2 separate regions of the Homo sapiens genome follow, and region 1 is linked to region 2. Evidence: fine-mapped expression QTL. Tissue or cell type: lung. Region 2 holds a variant in brackets; the other region holds the start of a gene. All regions are shown on one strand. Distances are from middle to middle.

Region 1 (8,103 bases), 47 kb after region 2:
AGTGGTCTGCACCCTTGGATGTCAGTGCACCCACACTGACCATATGTTTTTGATCAGGCATCCAGCCCAGACAAAGTTGAGCTCTGCGACTTTAACACCAAAAGAGTGCTCACTTCTATGAGGCTGAAGTGGATCCCGGAGACGGACCTCTCCAGTCTTGACGAGTGAGTAACATACTAATCCAAAGGGAAGACCAAATCCCCAAAGTCCAAATTTCACCACCTCCTGACTATCGATCACATTCCTTCTCTCTAGAAATGTGAAAATCATCTACCAACCTACTTATTAAAACAAGTCTAACTGCCTTAACTTCAGGATTATAGATTTGCTGATGAAATTGTTATAAATGCTCTCAAAGTTCTATTACCATCTAATTACAATTTATGCACAGCTATATAATAATGTGTGTTTTGGAAGCTGAAATAATATGTGTTTTGGAAGCCAAAAAAATTAAGCTTCAATTACTTTTGTACCTACCATGACAACAGGCAGAAACAGGACAATTTTGTATAAAGAATGTTTTTTTACATTTTTGTCCTTTTTTTTTTTGGTGTTTTCTCACAGTTCCTGTCAAGGTGAGAGGAACCAGGCAAAATGCAGGCTTAACATATACGGTCATCCCCAGGTTTTTTTTAACTATATAAAGGAGAAATTAATAAAAGAAAAAAAGAAATACCACACAGCATTTTCTTTCCCCACCATAATTTTTCAATTTTCTTTAGAGAAATGCCAGCCAATAACTAATTAGAACCATACCCTTTGTTATCCCAATGGGAAGAAGTATACGCATGGGCTTAAAGAACAAATGTTAATGAGAATTTAAAAAAAATTAGCAATCTGGAACTCTGGTTTCCCTTCAGTGTAAAACAAAATTCCCTTCTCTAGAGTTATTTTTATCATTGGCGAAATGACACGGATAGAGTCCATCCACAAGACGTGTTCACCCATCCAGTGCCCTCAGCTGGGAGAACTCCGGCTCTTCACTTGTTCTGATGGGGAAATTAGCATCATTAGCTCACGGGCTTCTAAGCACCCTAACTTCAAATGAGACAAAAACTCAGTTACAGAAAAGGCATTTGTTCCACATCTCTTTGGTTTCAAGGGGGAAAATAATTCCTTTTTTTTTTTTTTTGAGACAGAGTTTCGCTCTTGTTGCCCAGACTGGGGTGCAATGGTGCGATCTCGGCTCACCGCAACCTCCGCCTCCCAGGTTCAAGCGATTCTCCTGCCTCAGCCTCCCTAGTAGCTGGGACTAGAGGCATGCGCCACCAGGTCTGGCTAATTTTGTATTTTTAGTAGAGACGGGGTTTCTCCATGTTGGTCAGGCTGGTCTGGAACTCCCGACCTCAGGTGATCCGCCCACCTCAGCCTTCCAAAGTGCTGGGATAACAGGCATGAGCCACCGCACCCGGCAATAATTCCTTTTAAAATCAGCACGTAGCTTTTGTAATTTCCAAGAGTATGTGTTCCATAAGAAGGACAGCTGGAGTCTTTTTACCTGGTATATATCCCCGAGAAAGATCTTGAGTGGTTTGTTCACGACCAAGGAAAGAAACTACCTCCTTGAAAACTGGACTGGTTTTAGAGAATAAAGTATAGGATGTGAGTCAGAAAAACTCTGGGCCAAAAAATAAAATGTTTAAGATGCTAACGCACCAGGGTTTGGGCACGTCCAGCACTCTCAACGGTATTTTCAAATGAGAGTCTGCCCTGTGTCATCCAGGTTCTCATCATGGAGGAATCAGCAGGTCCAGGCTAGGGCCGCAGAATACTTTTTGTCATGCAAAGAGCCTGTCCAGGGTATAGAGAGCCAGCCATGGCCCATGTCCTATCAAATATTCTCCTTTTTCGGAAAAAGCTCTAAGCATTTGCAAAACATCTGTTTGCTCCATATTTTTACTATCCAAAAAATGTATTTCCTCTTCAGTAAAAAACACAACAATAGGCTGTTAAGCCTGTAACATTTTACCATAATTCTATGTTTTCAAAAGCTAGAAATCATTTGTATTGCCGGATAAGGACATTATTTTAAGTAGACTTTAGTCTACAACAGAAACTTGCCGTAACAATGAAAATGTTTTTTGGCAAATCCCTTTCTGAACATTATTTCTCCACGAACGTATCACAAAAACCACCACCAAGGAAAACAAAGGATTCTCGTATTTTGAATCAAAAAGTACTGGCCATGCATATTCATACTATATCAAGCATGTCAATCAAAATGGGCAAAATAACCTAAAAAGCAGTAAAAATGCCAACTCTTGCCTCTGAGTGGTTAGTGAACCTATGTTTTCCCAATATGAAATTTACAAACTGCATCGGATCAACTGTATTTCATACTTTAAATCTCGAATCTCTACCTCCCACTGCTTCGGGATGGATGATTTACTCAAGACATTTGGGGTCACAGTGTAAGCCTTTTGCTCCCAGTAAATCTAAATCATGCTTCTCAACAAGATTCTGCACATATAAAAGGAACACGTGGCACGCCTCGCCATGCTCCCCAGAGGAAACTAAACGCCCCCAGAATAGCCCTTCTGTCCACTCCAGAAACAGGCTTTCCTCAAAAAGGGAAAGGGGCTGGATTCACACGTTGCATCATATACACTCACGAAGCAACAGCGCTCCAAAACTTTTTCTGACTCCATTCATTACAAAATGTCCTGGATGTGCTTTATTATCACAGAGACAGACATCCTCACCCAAGGGACACACTCAGAAACCCAAACTCAACTCGGCAGCAAACTGGGAGACACGAGAAGTTGACAGCAAAGTATCCATTTCCCCAAATCCTCCTTCTTCCAGTCAATGTGCATCGATGGGGTCAGCTCAGCCCTTAACTCGAAGACCCCGGGACCACAGGGGCCACCACGCAGCTGAGCTCTGCACAGCCCGGGCTGTTCCCGCGCCCGGGAGGCGTCTGGGGAGGAGGCTGGACGGCCAGACAATGCAAAGCTCCCCGGTGGCCGCGAACTCAGCCTGGGGCGGGGGAGGCGGGGGCGGGAGACGGAGCCGTGAGCGCCCTTCTCGGCCACAGCCACGGCCACGGTCACCGGCCGCCTCTCCTGACCTCGGCCTCGGCCCCCAGGTCCCCGGTCCCCGGGGAAGGGGCTCCGGGAAGGCAGGTTTCTCCCGGAAAGAAAGGAAACGCGCTGGTTTGGGCGCCACGGGCGGGGGGCGTGCGCCCTCCCCTCCCCTCCCCTCCCCACTGTGGGAATCCGCGGGGGTCGGCGGCGGAGGCAGGAAGGGCCTGGCGCCTCTGCTCGCGGGTGAAGGGGTCGCGGAACCGGGATCCCCGAGCGCAGCCGCCCCCACCCGAGGCTCCCAGCGTGTGCGGACGGAGGGGCTCGAGCCGGGATCCCGGGGGCCGAGGGGGGTCCAACTTTCCAGGGCGGGCGCAGCGCAGCACTCGAACCAAAGAGGGGTCCTGGGATGAGGGTGCGGGCACAGCGCGGAAGGGGGGGGGGCAGAGGCGGGGACGGCGGGGTGGGGGGCGGGGAGAGGACAGTGGGTCGGGGGGCGGGGGACTGGGGGCAGGGGTCGGGGGGTGGAGGGCGGGCAGGGGGACAACGGGGTTGGCGGAGGGCAGGGGTAACGGGCGTGGGGGGCGGGCAGGGGTAACGGGCGTGGGGGGCGGGCAGGGGCCGGCGAGGCCCGCGCCGCTCACCTTCCTGTGCTTCTCCTTGTAGGGCAGCGCCAGCCACGGCATGTCCCGCACGAAGTCCTGCCACTGCCGCTGGTCCTGGTCCGAGGACACGAAGACGATCTCCAGGCGCCGCCGCGGCTCGGGCTCCGCCGCCGCCCCGGCCCCCGCTCCCGGCCCCGGCCCGGCCGCCGCGTCCCCCCGCAGGCGCCCGTAGAAGGCGGCCAGGCTGGCGCTGAGCTGCGCGCAGGGGGCGCTGAGGCTGCAGCCGAAGTAGAGACCCAGCAGCGAGATGCCGCGGGCGCCCAGCGAGTGCACGTCCACCTCCTCGCCGCCGCCCGTCACCAGCTTCTCGCCGAGCAGCTCCTCCAGGAAGCCCGACATCCTGGCCCACCGCAGGGCGGGCAGGCGGCTGCGACCCCGCTCCACGGTCCGCGCGGCGGGAGGAGGCGGCGGCGTCGGCGGCAGGCGCTGGGGAGAGCAGAGCCCGGCCCAGTAGGGCCGCCCACGCCACGCCCCCTCCGCCTGCCCGCGCCACGCCCCTTCCCCCGCCCTGCCACGCCCCCTCCGCGGCCCGCGCCACGCCCCTTCGGCTGCCCTCGCCACGCCCCTCCGCCCGCCCTCGCCACGCCCCCTCCGCCCTCGCCACGCCCCGTTTGCGGCCGGCGGTGGCCAGAGCTCTCCGCCCAGGCGGGGTCCGCAGCTGCCGGCCGCGGTGCGCGGGGTGACTGCTTGGGCGAGAAGCCGGACCCGAAACGCCGCACTCTCCCTGGAAAGCCCACGGCCGAAGTGAAGAAAGGAGAAGGGCCCGCTGAGCCGGCGCTTTCCCGGGCTGCAGCCCGGCCCGCATTTTCTCTCCTCCCCAGTTCTAAATTCCCTCCAGACCTCCAGGGATCCCGCCCCCTCCCCGCGGAGCTCTTCACCCTCTTCCTGTTCCTCCCCGGCCTTTCCCTCCTCCTCTCCCTGCACGAAGCCTGACCCTTAGGCCGCTCCGGGCCCCACTGACCCTGAGATGCTTATAGGACCCGCCGTCCTCACTGCATCAGGCCGGGCCTGGCTGGACACTGACTCCTCTGTGTGTTCCAAGCTGTTCTAAGGGGGCCGAGGACGCCCTCGCAGCTTCTGGTGGGGTCTGGTTAGGGTGCCAGGTCTCAGTGTGGGATTTCCGTCCAGGGGTCGCCGGGGCCTCTCCCCCCAGCGAATCTGTCTTCCAGCCCCACAAATGGATGCAAAGGACGCCGCGGGGCCTCCAGACCAATGCTGGCCGCGCTCCTGAATCCGCTCCATCCTCATGTCAAGTCTATGGATAGTTGAGAACATTTCTAGAGATTTTTTTTTTCCTACCAGCTGGCAGGATGCTCCCCAATGCTTAGGGAGAAGCTGGATTAAACAGGTGGTCTGGGCCGGGCGCGGTGGCTCACGCCTGAATTCCCAGCACTTTGGGAGGCCGAGGTGGGTGGATCACAAGGTCAGGAGTTCGAGACCAGCCTGGCCAATATGGTGACACCCCCCCCCCGCCTCTACTAAAAATACAAAAATTAGCGGGGTGTAGTGGCAGGCACCTGTAATCCGAGCAACTCAGGAGGCTGAGGTAGGAGAATGGCGTGAAGCCGGGAGACGGAGGCTGCAGTGAGCCGAGATCGCTCCATTGCACTCCAGCCTGGGCAACAGAGCAAGACTCCGTCTCAAAAAAAACAAAAAAACAGGTGGTCCGTGGCGAGTACTCTGGCCACGCAGCGCCTCCCCCCAACCCAACCCACTGGTGCACGAAGCAGGTGCAGATCCGGGCCCAGCCACAGTAACAGGCCGCCGGTGTGGATCAGCTACTGACGACTCAGCGAAAGCAAAAAAATAAAAGCTGAAAACCCGCCCCTCTCAGAGCTTCCACCGCCGCTTCGGAGGATATTTCCTGTGCATCCATCGCCACCTAATGGAAAGAGTGAAAAATGAGGCCGACCAAACTCCATTTGTGAAAAGACACTGCCGGGACACCAGGCACAATGCTTTTATTTTACAGCAGCTTTCCACATACACAAATGATAGGACGCTTTGCGGGAGCTAATTTAAACCTCAGAATAGAACTTCAAGCTTTTGGCACAAAACGTAAGTGTTCACATCGAAGGTTCTCCGTTTTTCTAGGGTAGAATAAGGAATGGTGCAGGGTTCCAGCTTGGTGAAATGTTACCATATAAAACAATTGGGAGAGGTGGAGATGGGAGCGGAAAGTGGACTGGCGTCTCTACAAGTTATATCCACTTCCTTAGTCACCTGCTGGTATTGCTAATGACACAGGTAAGATCTTAGATGGAGGACCGCCTTCGAACACCCTAGAATCCTACTGCAAAGTCGAATTCCACCTTAATTCTCAGGAGACTTTCATGCTGAAAGTCTGTGCCACTGTAGGGACAATATTATAAAACACACACAGAAAGCATCACTTTTTAGTGAAAACTTTATTTATTTATTTATTTATTTATTTATTTATTTTGAGACAGTGTGGGCGGCAGGCCACCCAGGCGCTGAGGCAAGAGACCGAGGACACAAGCCGTTCCAGTGTAATAAAATATAAAATAAGAATAGTTATACCAGATATAGATCTTAGATAGGCTTATATATGAATATCATTAATCATTAGTTTGTAGCAATTACTCTTTATTCCCATATTATAATGATCCTCGCTCTATAATCATAATCTAGGGAAAACCAGGCCATACAGAGATAGGAGCTGAGGGGACATAGTGAGGAGTGACCAGAAGACAAGAGTGCGAGCCTTCTGTTATGCCCAGACAGGGCTACCAGAGGGCTCCTTGGTCTAGCGGTAACACCAGCGTCTGGGAAGACACCCGTGGCCAGGCGGACTGTGGTGTAGCGGTAGCGTAAGTGTCAAGGAAAAACACCCGCTACTTAGCAGACCGGGAAAGGGAGTCTCCCTTTCCCCGGGGGGAGTTTAGAGAAGACTCTACTCCTCCACCTCTTGTGGAGGGCCTGACTGCAGGTTCGCCCACAATTATCCGGAGGCCTAACTGTCTCCCTGTGATGCTGTGCTTCAGTGGTCACGCTCCTAGTCCGCCTTCATGTTCCATTCTGTACACCTGGCTCTGCCTTCTAGATAGCAGTAGCAAATTAGTGAAAGTACTAAAAGTCTCTAATAATGGTGGAAGCTGTTTCTCTCTTTGTCTCCTCTCTCTCTCTGCCTCGGCTGCCAGGCAGGGAAGGGCCCCCTGTCCAGTGGACACGTGACCCACATGACCTTACCTATCATTGGAGATGGCTCACTCTCCTTATCCTGCCCCTTTGTCTTGTATCCAATAAATATCAGTGCAGCCTGGCATTTGGGACCACTACCGGTCTCCGCGACTTGGTGGTAGTGGTTCCCCAGGCCCAGCTGCCTTTTATCTCTTTGTCTTGTGTCTTTATTTCTACACTCTCTCGTCTCCGCACACGGGGAGAGACCCACTGACCCTGTGGGGCTGGTCCCTACAGACAGAGTCTCACTCTGTTGCCCAGGCTGGAGTGCAGTGGTGCGATCTCAGCTCCTGCAACCTCTGCCTACCAGATTCAAGTGATTCTCCTGCCTCAGCCTCTCGAGTAGCTGGGATTACAGGCATGCACCACCTCCCAAATAGCTGGGATTACTGGCATGCACTAATTTTTTTGTTTTGTTTTGTTTGTTTGTTTTTTGCAACAGAGTCTTGCTCTGTTGCCCAAGCTGGAGTGCAGTGGCGCGATCTCGGCTCACTGCAAGCTCCGCCCCTCCAGGTTTAAGCAATTCTCTGCCTCAGCCTCTGGAGTAGCTGGGATTACAGGCGTCCGCCACCAAGCCTGGCCAATTTTTTGTATCTTTAATAGAGACGGGGTTTTCACCATACTGGCCAGGCTGGTCTCAAACTCCTGGCCTCAAGTGATCCACCCGCCTCAGCCTCCCAAAGTTCTGGGATTACAGGCATGAGCCACCACCCGGCCTTGGTGAAAACATTTAAAGCTACTCATATCATATATATTAAGTTACTAGGCCAGGTGAGGTGGCTCACACCTGTAATCCCAATACTTTGGGAGGCCGAGGCGGGCAGATCATGAGATCAGGAGATTGAGACCATCCTGGCTAACACAGTGAAACCCCGTCTCTACTAAAAATACAAAAAATTAGCCGGGCGAGGTGGCGGGCACCTGTAGTCCCAGCTACTCGGGAGGCTGAGGCAGGAGAATGGCATGAACCCGGGAGGCGGAGTTTGCAGTGAGCCGAGATCGCACCACTGCACTCCAGCCTGGGCGACAGGGAGAGACTCCATCTCAAAAAAAAAAAAAAAGTATATATATACACACACACACACACACACACACACACACACATAGTTACTAGACATCTTTTGAAATCCTGTAAATGGGTTACAATGTTTTATCATCTCATCCAAATCTTATCTGAAAGGCCCATGCACTGGGTACGTGGGTTAGGCACTACT
Region 2 (8,103 bases):
AGACTCTGTCTCAAAAAATAATTAAGGAAATAAAAGATACTGGAGAATACCGCTCACATGTGCAGATATCAAGAAGACTAGCAGATGAGCAAATGGCCTAAACGCGTAATCAGCTGTATAAATGCAATACACATCATAACTTTTAGGAACTGTTTGCAATTCACACTTAATTCCCACAGAGTAAAGCCGAGGCCTTAAATTAGTGAATGGCATATGTGCTTTGTTTGGCTTTGCCCAATGTCAAGAAAAATTTTAACTGGCTAACAGCATGTAAAACTTAACTAGCTTCACATAAAAACCCAGTTTGTTAGCTTGAAAAATCAGAAGAGCTGGCAACGTCGGCCTTCATTACGGCAACAGGCAGCTGGAGGTGAGCGCCGGCTTTCCCCGAGGGCTGGCTGCGGCCCTCCACTCTGTCCCCCACCACCTGGCCCAGGCCACTCGCTTCACCTGCCTGGCCCTCTACTGGCATTTGAGTTGGTGAGTCCTGCAGGAAAACACTGGTTCACGTTATTAAATATGTCCAATTGGCTACACGTTTTGACTGTGCACGAAACTCCAGCTCGGTCTTCACTTACAGCTTTTGCAGGTTTAGCTCCTGTAGCAAGATCCAACATCTGATCTCACAGCTTCACAATGACAACCTGTCTGTGAAGAACATCCCAGTTTTCCAGTGTGCCCCCCTACCCTCTGGTTTATTTAACCTTCCCAATATTCCAGGAAGGCTGGGCTTATTGTCCAAAATAGAAGGGCGATCAACCAGCTAACAGGAACTAAAACCGGGATTTCAACTCAGGACTTGGGTTCAACCTTAGCTTAGCATTTCCCACCATACCTACCACGCATCCCTCAATCCCTGGAGGCGGCTCTGATTCCAGACTGACCCAACCGGAGGAGGCTCAAGTCCAGGTTGCAAAGCAGCTGGGCTGCTCTGGAAAGAGCGTTTGGAATCCTTGCTTCACTTCCGTTTTTAATCTTCTTAAAAAAAACTGTGTAGTAGTGTTTAATCCAAAGACAGCTGATTCCCATTTACACGTAACCTGTTGAACTCACATACTAAATTTTAAAGCTCTGCTCTCGAAAATGCAGTTTGCTCTTTAAGATCTCCTTGGTAACACATCTAACTGGTATCTGAACTACAGAAAAAAAAAAAAAACTTTGGAATCAATCAATGACGGGGGTTAGAATAAAATCCAACTCAGGAAAGTACCGAAGAAAGTTCCAGAATGACAGCTGTGTAGCCGACCCAGAGAACCACCTGTGTCTGGAATGGAGGAGGACTGGTAACTCCCAGGAAAGGGGACTCTCCAAGTTAAAAAGGGGACTCAGGCTGGGTGCAGTGGCTCACACCTGTAATCCCAGTACTATGGGAGACTGAGGCAGGCAGATCACCGTGAGGTCAACAGTTCAAAACCAGCCTGGCCAAGATGGTGAAACCCCATCTTTACTAAAAATACAAAAATTAGCCAGTGTGATGGCGGATATCTGTCATCTCAGCTACTCAGCAGACTCAGGCAGAAGAATCACTTGAAGCCGGGTGGCGGAGGTTGCCAGTGAGTTGAGATCGTGCCATTGCATTCCAGCCTGGGTGACAGAGCGAGATTCCGTCTCAAAAAAGAAAAAAAAATACCACTTGAACTTGCCACAAACAATATTTACAGACACAACAATGCCCCTATTGATTGACTGGCTGATTTTCAACTACACACAAAGCATGAATCCCGGTGACACAACACAATGTAAATACGAACAACCTTGACAAAGCTAAAGGTACAAAAAATAGGAAGGAAGTGCAGGAGACCTGATGGGCAGGATAGAAAGACACCAACGTTCCCAAAGTCCTATTGAAGGATAAGGAGTAAAGGCATAAACATGTTATTAAATGCTAAAAGTGTAACCAGGAAAACCGTAAATGGTGGTATACCAAGAGGACAAAGAAAGTTGAGTTTGCTTTTTTTTTTTTTTTAGACAGAATCTCGCTCTGGTTGCCCAGGCTGGAGTGCAGTGGTGCGATCTCGGCTCACTGCAACCTCTGCCTCCCGGGTTCAAGTGATTCTCCTGCCTCAGCCTCCTGAGTAGCTGGGACTACAGGTGTGAGCCACCACGCCCAGCTAATTTTGTATTTTTAGTAGAGATGGGGTTTCACCATGTTGGTCAGGCTGGTCTCGAACTCCTGACCTCATGATCCGCCCGACTCAGCCTCCCAAAGTGCCGGGATTACAGGCGTGAGCCACCGCACCCGGCTGGTGAGTTTGCTTTTAAGGGAGCTAAATCGATCTCTAGCCTAGCAGAAAACCAACACATAATGTTGAAGTTCGCCGGGTGTGGTGTCGCACGCCTGTAGGCCCAACGACACAGGAGGCTGAGGTGGGAGAATTGCCTGAGCCTAGCAAGTCGAGGCTGCAGTGAGCTGAGATCGCGCCACTGCACTCCAGCCTGGGCGACAGAGCGAGACTCCATCCAAAAAAAAAAAAAAAAAATTAGCTGGGTGTGGTGGTGTGTGCCTGTAATCTCAGCTACTGGAGAGGCTGAGGCAGAAGAAATGCTTAAACCTGGGAGACGGAGGTTGTAGTGAGCAGAGATCACACCACTGCACTCCAGCCTGGTGACAGAGCAAGGCCCTGTCTCAAAAAAAAAAAACAAGAAAGATAAAGTCATATAATAAGCCTATGTATACTACTTGATTTTGTTTTCGCCATAAGCACATGTTATTTATTTTAAAAAAATTTTTGGCCGGGCGCAGTGGCTCACACCTGTAATCCCAGCACTTTGGGAGGCCGAGGTGGGCGGATCGTGAGGTCAGGAGATCGAGACCATCCCGGCTAACACAGTGAAACCCTGTCTCTGCTAAAAATACAAAAATTAGCCGGGCGTGGTGGCAGGCGCCTGTAGTCCCAGCTACTCGGGAGGCTGAGGCAGGAGAATAGCATGAACCCGGGAGGCGGAGCTTGCAGTGAGCTGAGATCACGCCACTGCACTCCAGCCTGGGCGACAGAGTAAGACTCCGTCTCAAAAAAAAAAAAAAAAAAAAAATTTTTGGCCGGGCGCAGTGGCTCACGCCTGTAATCCCAGCACTTTGGGAGGCCGAGGCGGGGGGATCACTCGAGGCCAGTAGATCAAGACCAGCCTGGCCAAGACGGTGAAACCCCATCTCTACTAAGAATACAAAAATTAGCCAGGTGTGGTGGTGGGTGCCTATAATCCCAGCTAATGGGGAGGCTGAGGCAGGAGAATCGCTTGAACCTGGGAGACGGAGGTTGCAGTGAGCTGAGATTGCACCACTGCACTCCAGCCTGGGCAATAGAGCAAGACCCTATCTCAAAAATAAAACAAAACGAACAATTTTAGAAATGTTTAATTATTTGGAATCCTGGAAAAAAAAGCTAAGGCAAAGCTGATCTGAAGAGTCTGTCTACCTGCCCAGCTACCAACCCAAACCGGCCTTGTTTTGGTCCTAGGCGGCGGTTCTTAAACTCTGGTCCCTGGACGTACGGCTTCCGGGTTGCCTGGGAACTGTTGCTAGAATTGCAAACTACTGGGCCCCAGCCTGGACCTACCAAGTCAAGAACTCTGGGATGGGGCCCAGGAATCCGCATTTAACCAGTCCTTCTGGTTATTCATCAGTTTGGAAACCGCAGGTCTTCAGCAAAACAAAACTCTGAGGCGGCGTTGGGTCCAGTCGTCGTCTCCTCAGCGAGTAAGGCAGCTTCAGGGGAAGGCCTGAGCCCCTTCTAAGAAAACACAGGCTGGATTTTAAAGGATCTCTAGGGCTAGTTTCCCCAGGTTCTGGGCCCCTGCCCTGTGTGAGCTCTAGTGGGGTCAGCAGCAAGGACCCATCACCGGAAGAGGCTTCTGAGAGGCACCGACTTTTGCCATCAGTGGGCAGCGAGTGGGCTGTGTGGTCCCCGGACAAGCAGCTGAGTGGGTGGGGAGTGCCTTGTTGTGGCCGGCTTCGCATAAGTCATCTGCGCCCGCCACCACGCCAGGCTAATTTTTATATTTTTAGTAGAGATGAGGTTTCTCCATGTTGGCCAGGCTGGTCTCGAACTCCTGACCTCAGGTGATCCGCCCGCCTCGGCCTCCCTCAGTACTGGGATTCCAGGCGTGAGCCACCGCGCCCAGCCCAGCCCGTCCTCTTGAACCTGCTCAGTTTCAGTCGTCATGACCACTTGTAATATCCCTTCCCACTAACATCAAAGGCTGTGGCCCGAAGCTCCCAAGTGGGCGAAAAAGTCCCGAGAGGTTCCAGAAGGCAAGATCATTCTGGGGCCACGAGGACCGAGAAACGACACAACCAACCACAGAACAGAAAACTCTTGTGGATCTGATGTGATTCTGTACTCCAGATTTGCAGTTACCACTTACAGAAGCCAACGTCCACCTCTGAAACACAGAACCCCCTAACTGGTGCGAGGCAGCTGAAGACAAAGTTGAGGCCTTTGGGAGAAGAGCT[C/T]GGCCAGAGGAGGAAATCTGATTAGTAAAAAGATAGGCAGCCAAGAAGTAAATTAAATGAATGCTCACAGAGAAAGCACTCGAGACAGGAGCGGGAGAGACTCCGGGCACACATCGCGACAGGGACAGAAAAGCTTTCAGGATGGGGGTGGGGGAAGGGGAAGAACTGGTTTTCTAATATTAGACTCACGACATGCTCACTTCCCAAATCCCAGCCAAAATGAGGGCCCCTTGACTCCGACAAGCCCAGGCCACCTTCTGCTTGGATACACACTTTCTGCACCAGGACTCTGCGTGAATGCCAAGGCAAATTCCATCCCTCTCAACTCCCCACCGCAACACCAAATGACTCACACAGCTTATCTTGAAATTCCCCCTTTCATCTTGGCCTCCCACTAACTTAAAACAATGCAATAAGAACACATTCAAGACACCTCCAGTAAATCCATATCCGTATTATTCACGAGGCACTAACTAGAAAGCTGTTTATCCTGAAGCCTACGTGGTCAACTTTAGAAATGTGCCTTCGTGTAAGCTGGTTTTTATAAAATAAATAAAAAGCCTCCACAAATACCAGAACACTTATCAATTTGGACTAAAGTCGTGGATTCCAATACAAGCAGCCAAGGTCCTCAAGCCTCAAGCATAAACATCCCTTGCCTTTTATTAATTGAAAAATAAACAGGAGGGGAAATGGGTGGCATGCCTCACTATGTGATTTAAAACAAATGACACGATGTTCTCAAACTTCAATTAATTTTTAAAAAGGCATTTTATTTTTCACTTTATGATTATAAAAGTCATACATGCAGACTATGGGGAAATTTAGAAAGTACAATAAGAAGGCCAGGCGCCGTGGCTCACGTCTGTAATCCCAGCACCCCGGGAGGCCGGGCGCGGTGGCTCACGCCTGTAATCCCAGCACTTTGGGAGGCTCAGGCAGGCGGATCACGAGGTCAGGAGATTGAGACCATCCTGGCTAACACGGTGAAACCCTGTCTCTACTAAAAATACAAAAAAATTAGCCGGGCGTGGTGGCGGGCACCTGTAGTCCCAGCTACTGGGGAGGCTGAGGCAGGAGAATTGCGTGAACCCGGGAGATGGAGCTTGCAGTGAGCCGAGATAGCACCACTGCACTCTAGCCTGGGCAACACAACGAGACTCTGTCTCAAAGAAAAAAAAAAAAAGTACAATAAGAAGAAAACTTACTTCTGGAAGTAAGAGAAGTATAGAAAGTCATTTCTGGAAAAGACGCTGAATTGGTGACTTACAGTCAAGAAATTCCCAAGTCTGGCCAAATTCCAACCCAAATTCTCGGCCAGGCACAGTGGCTCATGCCTGTAATCCCAGCACTTTGGGAGGCCAAGGTGGGTGGATCACCTGAGGTCAGGAGTTCGGGACCAGCCTGGCCAACACGGTGAAACCCCATCTCTACTAAAAATACAGAAATTAGCTGGTCGTGATGGCACGCACCTGTAATCCCAGCTACTTGGGAGGCTGAGGCAGGAGAATCGCTTGAACCCGGGAGGCGGAGGGTGCAGTGAGCCGAGATCGTGCTATTTCACTACAGCCTGGGTGACAGGAAGACGCCATCTCAAAAAAAAGAAAAGAAAGAACATTCTTTTAGCCCAGTCCCAAGCGGACTGTCTGGACAGAGTCCTCACTTGCTGCCACTCATTATTGCATCATTTTGCTGTGCTCTTTATTTTTTTTTATTTATTTATTGTTTTTTGAGATGGGGTCTCTCACCCTGTCTCCCAGGCTGGAGTGCAGTGGTGTGATCTCGGCTCACTGCAGCCTCCACTACCCAGGTTCAAGTGATTCTCCTGCCTCAGCCTCCTGAGTAGCTGGGATCACAGGTGCATGCACTACCACGCCCAGATAATTTTTGTGTTTTTACTAGAGACAGGGTTTTACCATGTTGGCCAGGATGGTCTCGAACTCCTGGCCTCAGGTGATCTGCCCACCTTGGCCTCCCAAAGTGCTGGAATTACAGGTGTGAGCCACCGCGCCCGGCCTTGCTGTGCTCTTTAAACAGCCGCAGGACTCTGCTCCAATTCCTTCGTATCTGGGAATCCTCTGGCACAAAACCCCCACCTCCTATATCATGTGGTCTGTGTGACAGCCAGAAACCCCCCAGCTGAAGAACACTGAGAAGTGGGAGGCTTCCGCTCGGTCATGGCCGGCGGGACAAGGAGATGCTTAAAGGTCTGGCAAGGTTGTAGGAAAAGACCAAGACACTTCAGGATCCAGCTTTAGGATGTGCTGGCGGCTGCAACAAACATGCACTCTGATCAATGAGCTCTGCGCTCATTCACTCCACACGTGTTTACTGAGCGTCTACTGTGTCTAAGACCCTGAGCTCTGCAGAACACGCCCAGGAATCACAGAAGGAGCTTGCTCTGAGAGCTGGGAGAGCCTGCTATTCATGCGGGTATTGACTGTTGCCATCCTGCAGAACAAAGCCAGCTTTCATAACATCCCACTAGATACCATGCCAGCCACATCCTTGCCTGGAATAAAACCTGCAGCCTAGGCCGGGCGCAGTGACTCACGCCTATAATCCCGGCACTTTGGGAGGTGGAGGCAGGTGGATCACCTGAGGTCGGGAGTTTAAGACCAGCCTGACCAACATGGTGAAACCCAGTCTCTACTAAAAATACAAAATTAGCTGGATGTGGTGGTGCATGCTTGTAATCCCAGCTACTCAGGAGGCTGAGGCAGGAGAATCGCTTGAACCCAGGAGGTGGAGGTTGCGGCGAGCCAAGATCGTGCCACTGCACTCCAGCCTGGGCAACAGGGCAAGATTCCATCTCAAAAAAAAAAAAAAAAAAAACCTCCAGCTCCTGCTTGTGCTTCCATCGATTGTCCTCCAAAAGATGGCTGGAGTGTGTCCCTCTCACCAGCACGCCACTCGATTCAACCTATGGACTCAAGACACGCCATCGGGCTCAATGCTGTGGGGCCTGGTGGAAGCAACCTCCTGTTGTTAGACCAGAAACGTCCCCTGCGACAAAGCCTTTGGTTTTGCTTTGTGTTCTTCTCCCGTGGGGTGGAAGAGCCGCCCTCCCTCTGAGGCACTGCAGCGACGGGTGCCCTGGTGAGTGTCCACGGTGAGGTGGTGAGTGTGCACCACACACAACCCGGCCAGCATCTGCCCAGGTCAAGCCCATCCTGTCAGTGCACACGCCGCGTGCTGCCACCACCCAGCTCGATGATTCTCTCCTTCCACACCTTCCGGTCCCCAAAAGTGACTGAAAGCAGGATTCTGCTGCGGAAAAACTGGACTTGGAGGAAGGGCAGGAGAGAAGGGCGAGGTGTGTCGGCCTGCCTCAGGTCTGGGGTGCCCAATTCTGGTTGTGCAAACAGTGAGGGAAAAAAAGGGTGCTACGATGTCTGGCTAAAACGGGGCATCAGAGCTGTCGGCGGTACCAGTTTTCAGAATCCATGGATTTATAACGGATTTCTTTTCTAACTTGCAAACGCATACGAGATACTTCACAGAGGTATTACAGTTAAGTCACACTTCCCCACATAAGCTCACCTTTAATGAAAAAGTTAAAATGACATAAAACTGGGAGTGTTCCAGAAAAGGCAGGCCTGTGTTCACCATCACAACACCTATGGATAGAAAAGAGGCAGAAAGGCCGG

Evidence for each region. PIP is the estimated chance that this variant, and not a neighbour inherited with it, causes the effect.
Region 1: NXN starts here. The variant in region 2 is fine-mapped to the expression of NXN in lung (TOPMed, PIP 0.95).

The regions. Positions count from the first base shown.
Region 1 is chr17:975,652-983,754 of GRCh38, forward strand. NXN (nucleoredoxin) reads right to left here and starts at 4,125. Exons shown (of 8, transcript NM_022463.5): 1 at 3,668-4,125. The coding sequence starts at 4,027. RefSeq lists enhancers at 3,038-3,973, 5,398-5,692.
Region 2 is chr17:928,824-936,926 of GRCh38, forward strand. The region is part of intron 1 of NXN (nucleoredoxin); the gene reads right to left. Among named protein-coding and RNA genes, the nearest start is that of NXN, 47 kb to the right of the region's middle. The variant C/T (reference allele first, on the strand shown) is at 4,454.